Regions from separate parts of the Homo sapiens genome. Here region 1 is linked to region 2. The links come from fine-mapping of genetic effects on plasma protein levels. A gene starts in region 2. The other region holds a variant in brackets. All regions are shown on one strand. Distances are from middle to middle.

Region 1 (2,900 bases), 580 kb before region 2:
CTAATTTTTGTACTTTTAGGAGAGATGGGGTTTTGCCATGTTGGCCAGGCTGGTCTCAAACTCCTGACCTCAGGTGATCCGCCTGCCTCAGTCTCCCAAAGTGCTAGGATTACAGGTGTGAGCCACTGCACCCAGCATGATTAGGCAGTTATGATGGGTATGGGGTCTGGTAACATATTGTCCAGATGCAGTGATCTGTAAAGTTTCAGTTCCTTGATACTACCTGGGAGGCCTGATGGTTGGTTTCCTGAGAAAGGAACTAATCAATAGATCGGAGCAAGAACAGAGCTGTAGGGCTATAACCCCCGTGAACTGAGAAGACCAAGTGAGAAGTTCCCAGGAAGTCCCAAAAGGAGAGCAAGCGTAAACATGCACCCACAAGGGGGCGTGCATTTACTGTCTTTCAATTAAAAACAATTTTTTTTTTGAGTCAGCGTCTTGGTCTGGTGTGCAATGGTGCAATCACAGTTCACTGTAACCTCCAACTCCTGAGCTCAAGCGATCCTCCCGCCTCAGCCTTCCAAGTAGCTAGGACCACAGGCTCGTGCCACCATACCTGGCTAATTTTATTTTTTAATTTTAATGATTTTTTTTTTTGAGACAGGGTCTTGCTCTGTCACTCAGGCTGCAGTGCAGTGACATGATCATGGCTCACTGCAGCCTCAACCTCTTGGACTCAAGCAATCCTCCCATCTTAGCCTCCAAAGTAGCTGGGATCACAGGCATGTACCACCACACCTGGCTAATTTTTGTATTTTTTTGTAAGACATGGTCTCGCTATGTTGCCTAGGCTCATCTCCCATTCTGAGGCTCAAGAGCTCCACCTGCTTCAGCCCCTGCAAAGTGCTGGGATTACAGGTGTGAGCCACAGTGCCCAGCCCATTTGAGTATATTATTTGGATAAATATTTATTTTACACAGTTTTTTTTTGTAGAAATGGGGTCTTGCTATATTGCCCAGGCTGGTCTCAAACTCCTGGGCTCAAGCAATCCTCCCACCTCAGCCTCCCAAGTAGCTAGGACTACAGGTGTGTACTACCACACTTGGCTCTTTACCCACTTTTGCACTGAGTTGTTTGATTTGCAAATATTTTTTCCCATCCTGTGGATTGTCTTGTCTTTTCACTCTCTTTTTTTTTTTTTTGAGCCGGAGTCTTGCTCTGTCACCCAGGCTGGAGTGCAGTGGCACAATCTCGGCTCACTGCAAGCTCCGCCTCTTGGGTTCAAATGAGGCTACTCCTCCTGAGTAGCTGAGATTACAAGCGTGTGCCACAATACCCAGCTAATTTTTGTATTTTTAGTAGAGACAGTATTTCACCATGTTGGTCGGGCTGGTCTTGAACTCCTGACCTCATGATCTCCCCGCCTCAGCCTACCTAAGTGCTGGGATTACAGGCTTGAGACACCGCGCTACCATACTCAGCCTTTTTTTTTTTTTTTTGAGATGGAGTCTCGCTCTGTCGCCAGGCTGGACTGCAGTAGGGCGATCTTGGCTCACTGCAACCTCCACCTCCTGGGTTCAGGTGATTCTCCCGTCTCAGCCTCCCAAGTAGCTGGGACTAAAGGCGTGCTCCAACACACCCGGATAATTTTTGTATTTTTAGTAGAGATGGGGTTTCACCATGTTGGCCAGGATGGTCTCAATCGCTTGACCTCGTGAT[C/A]CGCCCACCTGGGCCTCCCAAAGTGCTGGGATTACAGGCGTGAGCCACCACGCCTGGCCGAGTCTTTTCTTTTTAAATTATTTTTAAACTTCTTTTTTTGTTTGTTTTTTTGAGACAGCATCTCACTCTGTTGCCCAGGCTGAAGTGCAGTGGCATGACCATAGCTCCTTGCAGCCTTGAACTCCTGGGCTCAAGGGATCCTCCCACCTCAGCCTCCCGAGTAGCTGGGCCAACAGGTGCATGTCACCACTCCTGGTTAATTTTTTTTTTTTTTTTTTTTTTTGAGACGGAGTTTCACTCTATCGCCCAGGCTGGAGTGCAGTGGCGTGATCTTGGCTCACTGCAAGCTCTGCCTCCCGGGTTCACGCCATTCTCCTGCCTCAGCCTCCCAAGTAGCTGGGACTACAGGCGCCCGCCACCACGCCCGGCTAATTTTTTGTATTTTTAGTAGAGACGGGGTTTCATCGTGTTAGCCAGGATGGTCTCGATCTCCTGACCTTGTGATCCGCCCGCCTCAGCCTCCTAAAGTGCTGGGATTACAGGCGTGAGCCACCGCGCCTGGCCCACTCCTGGTTAATTTTTAAATATTCTGTAGAGATGGGATCTTCCTATGTTTCCCAGGCTGGGCAACATAACAACATAATAACATAACATAAAATAATTTTAAAGGTGATAGGCCGGGTGTGGGGACTCATGCCTGTAATCCCAGCATTTAGGGATGCTGAGGTGGAAGGATTGCTTGAGCCCCGGAGTTCGAGACTAGCCTGGGCAACATAGAGAGCCTCAGCCTCACCTGATCTCCCTTCCTTCTCCTCCCTGGGGTTCACGGCTGGCCACCAGCCTGTCCTGTCATTCCTGTCATCTGCCTGACTCCCTCCTGCACAGAGGTTCAACAGCAGGCCAGCTTCAGGTTCCTGCACCTCTGGCAAAACATCTTGCCTCTTTTTACTTGTCAAAATGATGACAGAATGACTTCAAAGATACATTCACAAAAGCCACCTTCCTATCCCATCACTGAGGCTTCACCAGAGAGCTTACTACCCCAGGGCTGCGTACACCGTCGCCCTCACAGCAGGGTTCTAACTTTGCCTCCCCCATCGCCTGAGAGTGAGATGGAGAGCTCTGGGCAGGTGGACCCCCTCCAGATTAGTTCAGAAAGTCTGCATAACTACAATTGTTTTTTAAAAAAAAACCTTGCAATGTGGGTATAAATTTTTGCCCCAGGACCAGGCACAGTTAC
Region 2 (2,874 bases):
ACAGAGCCTTCACCTTTGCCCTGGAAGCCAAGTTGTGCCCTTGCCCAGGATGAGGTAAATGGCATGAGGGACACCACGAGCTCTTTGGTTCTTGTTTCTGGAGACAGATTTTTGCTTTTTCACCCAGGCTGGAGTGCAGTAGTGGGATGAAGGCTCACTGCAGCCTCAACCTCCCCTACTAAAGTGATCTCCCACCTCAGCCTCCCAAGTAGCTGGGACTACAGGTCACAGACCACCACAGCCCACTAATTTCTTTCAATTTTTTGTACACTCCGAGTCTCACTATGTTGTCCAGGCTGGCCTCCAACTCCTGGGCACAAGCGATACTCTCCCTTGGCCTTCTAAAGTGGTGGGATTAAAGGAGTGAGCCAATCGCACCCAGCCACTGTGGCCTCTTAGATCTGCTTTAGGATTTGGCGCCTGGGGGCTTCTGTTCCCCAAGGACCACTATCCTTGTCTGAGGCCCCTTTGGAGGGCTCAGGGCATCCCCCCTGGCCAAGGACGCCACACACTGAGAGCCAGATGCTGCCAGAAGCTATTACTGTTATTACCGGCCGGCAGCACCCGCTACAGCCACAATCATAAGAGGGAAATGGACTGAATCCCCACACCCCAATCCCTCACCCACTCCGACCCCAGGCTGCCTACCCGGCCTGGCATGTCCCGGCGCTCCTGGGGCCCCTGTACTCCGCTGGTTCCTTGCCGTGGTGTCCCCCAGCCCGACCCTTTCTGTGCTTCTAGGAGCCCACCTTGGGCGGCGGGGAGGCGTTGCGTGGGGCTCACGAGTTCCACGCTGTCATCTCCACCAGCTCCTACCTCCCAGGCGCCTGCCCTCCCGCACTGTCAGGTTCTGCCTCCGCAGCATTTGGCAGATCTGAGCCCGGTCCCTGTCGCCCCTCCGAGGGAGCCTCACCCTGGCCCCGGACAAGAAGCAGCAGAAGCCCACAGGCCACCGCGCTCAGCCGCGCACGAAGTCTGTGCAGCCGCATGGTCGGCTCGCTGGTCTCGGTTCGCTGCCGGCGGACACGCTGCTGTTCACCCAGAGGCTGCCCCGGGTCTGTCCAGCAGTGGATCAGTGCCTTGCCCAGCCTTGGAGTTTGGACTGGGCAGGGAGTCAGCGGGGTGCGCTGGCTTGGGCCGGGAAAGGTGGGTGTGGTAGGAGAGCGGGACTGAGCAGTCATAGGTGGGTGGGGATCTAGTGGTAGGCAGGCCCGGGCACGGCCACTTTCCTTTGCCCGGGCTCCTTTGGCATCCTCGGAAGGGGCTGTGCCATTCCTGCAGCCCTTCCGCGATCCAGGGAATCCTCTCTTCAAACCTGTCCTTGTCCACAGGCCCGATGAGCGCGCTGGGGGATCGATAGGAGGGGGCAATAAACTAGAATTGGAGACCCCAGGAGGGCTTCTCTGAGGATGTGCACGTTCAGGATCCCCCAGATGGAGAAATGGGAAGGAACTTGATCGGGGTGAAGGAACCGCTTGAGCAAAGGCAGGAAGGAGTGTCGGCGCCCTTCATTCTGGAAGTTCCTCCTTGCTTTCAGGACTCAGTTTCCTGGGTTCCCCTTCACGGCCCCTCATCTCCTTACAGTCCAGGGTCTGAGGGTCTCCGCGGTCCCCTCCCTACTCAGTCACGCCATTCTTTTGAAACGTACACGTGACCGCGGCACTTCTTAAGGAGCGCCCCCCTTTTCCTCGGTGGCTTTCAGTTTCCTCACCTCCCGCGGAGACCACGGCCATGGTCATTTATCCACTTGACAAACATTTCACGAGCCCCTGCCGGTCCAAGCTGTGGGGACGCCGTACTCCCGGGCCTATGGTGCAGCAGGGGAGGCAGGCGCGTCACCGGGAGGTCCCGAGACACTAGGATCCCTGCCAGGCCAGAGGCGACCAACCGTCCTGGATACGGGAGCTCCCGGCCAGCCTGACTTCCAGGAGGAAGCGGTGTGGGGATTACCTCCGACCGCCTTTAGTGCCCCCTGAGACCTGGTTCTGGCCTCTACGTTTCAGCCCGCTACTGGCTCGCACGACCCAGCGCCGCCGTGGTCCCTTCTCAGCGCCTTCTGCTCCAGCGACCATCATGTTCCCGGGTCCGAGCAGCCAGGGCCGCGGTCACCGCTTCTCTCGCACCTCAGGCCGAGAACCCACAACGCGGCGTGTCCCTCGCGCGACTCCGTCGCCACGCCACGCCCCCTTCCCGTTCTCCGGAAGTGCGCGGGTTGGAGCGGAAGCGCACGCCTGCTAGGATCAGCGGTGGTGGTTCCGCGATGGTAGGCGGCGGCGGGGTCGGCGGCGGCCTCCTGGAGAATGCCAACCCCCTCATCTACCAGCGCTCTGGGGAGCGGCCTGTGACGGCAGGCGAGGAGGACGAGCAGGTTCCCGACAGCATCGACGCACGCGAGATCTTCGATATCCGCCGCTGCTGGGCGCGGGCGGGTTCCGGGGGCTTGCGGTGGGGGGAGCAGTGATATCGAGCAGCTGGTGGAGCCGCATCCCAGCAGGGCGTTCCTGGCAGAGGGTTCTAAGTGGGCAAGGGCGCAGAGTCCCTTTTCCTTCACTTCCCACATCTGATTCGCTCCATCAATGACCCGGAGCATCCACTGACGCTAGAGGAGTTGAACGTAGTAGAGCAGGTGCGGGTTCAGGTGAGTCACTTCCGAGGGGAGCGAGTTGTTCCAGAGAGTCAGAAAGGTTTCTGTGCAGCAGGAGCTGGCGTGCTCTATGCTCACGAACACCGAAGGGTATCTTTGGGGAGGGAGATTGTTGTGCCTATTTTATGGGTGTTGAAACTGAGGCCCATAGAAGTTGGATGATTTGCCCAAAACAACAAACTAAGAAGAGGGACCTTGGGCTGAGGGTGGTTGACTCTTGACATCTCTCC

Which allele goes with the higher level. Alleles are on the strand shown, and positions count from the first base shown. The strength of an association depends on the size of the effect and on how common the allele is.
With allele A in place of C in region 1, the plasma level of the protein whose gene starts at base 1,109 in region 2 is lower (moderate association).

What was found. PIP is the chance, under the fine-mapping model, that this variant and not a neighbour inherited with it causes the effect. Protein levels are from antibody-based Olink assays in UK Biobank. Linkage for the fine-mapping came from a reference panel and not from the study's own genotypes, which makes the PIPs less certain.
Region 1: its variant is fine-mapped to the plasma level of the CES2 protein (UK Biobank, PIP above 0.99).

What each region holds. Positions count from the first base shown.
Region 1 is chr16:67,512,031-67,514,930 of GRCh38, reverse strand. No RefSeq gene overlaps it. Among named protein-coding and RNA genes, the nearest start is that of RIPOR1, 15 kb to the left of the region's middle. RefSeq lists silencers at 110-279, 412-599. The variant C/A (reference allele first, on the strand shown) is at 1,661.
Region 2 is chr16:66,933,751-66,936,624 of GRCh38, reverse strand. CES2 (carboxylesterase 2) reads right to left here and starts at 1,109. Exons shown (of 12, transcript NM_001365405.1): 1 at 914-1,109. The coding sequence starts at 989. It overlaps CIAO2B (cytosolic iron-sulfur assembly component 2B), which reads left to right and starts at 2,223. Exons shown (of 5, transcript NM_016062.4): 1 at 2,223-2,402; 2 at 2,559-2,638. The coding sequence starts at 2,261. RefSeq lists enhancers at 887-1,499, 2,338-2,537, 2,568-2,617.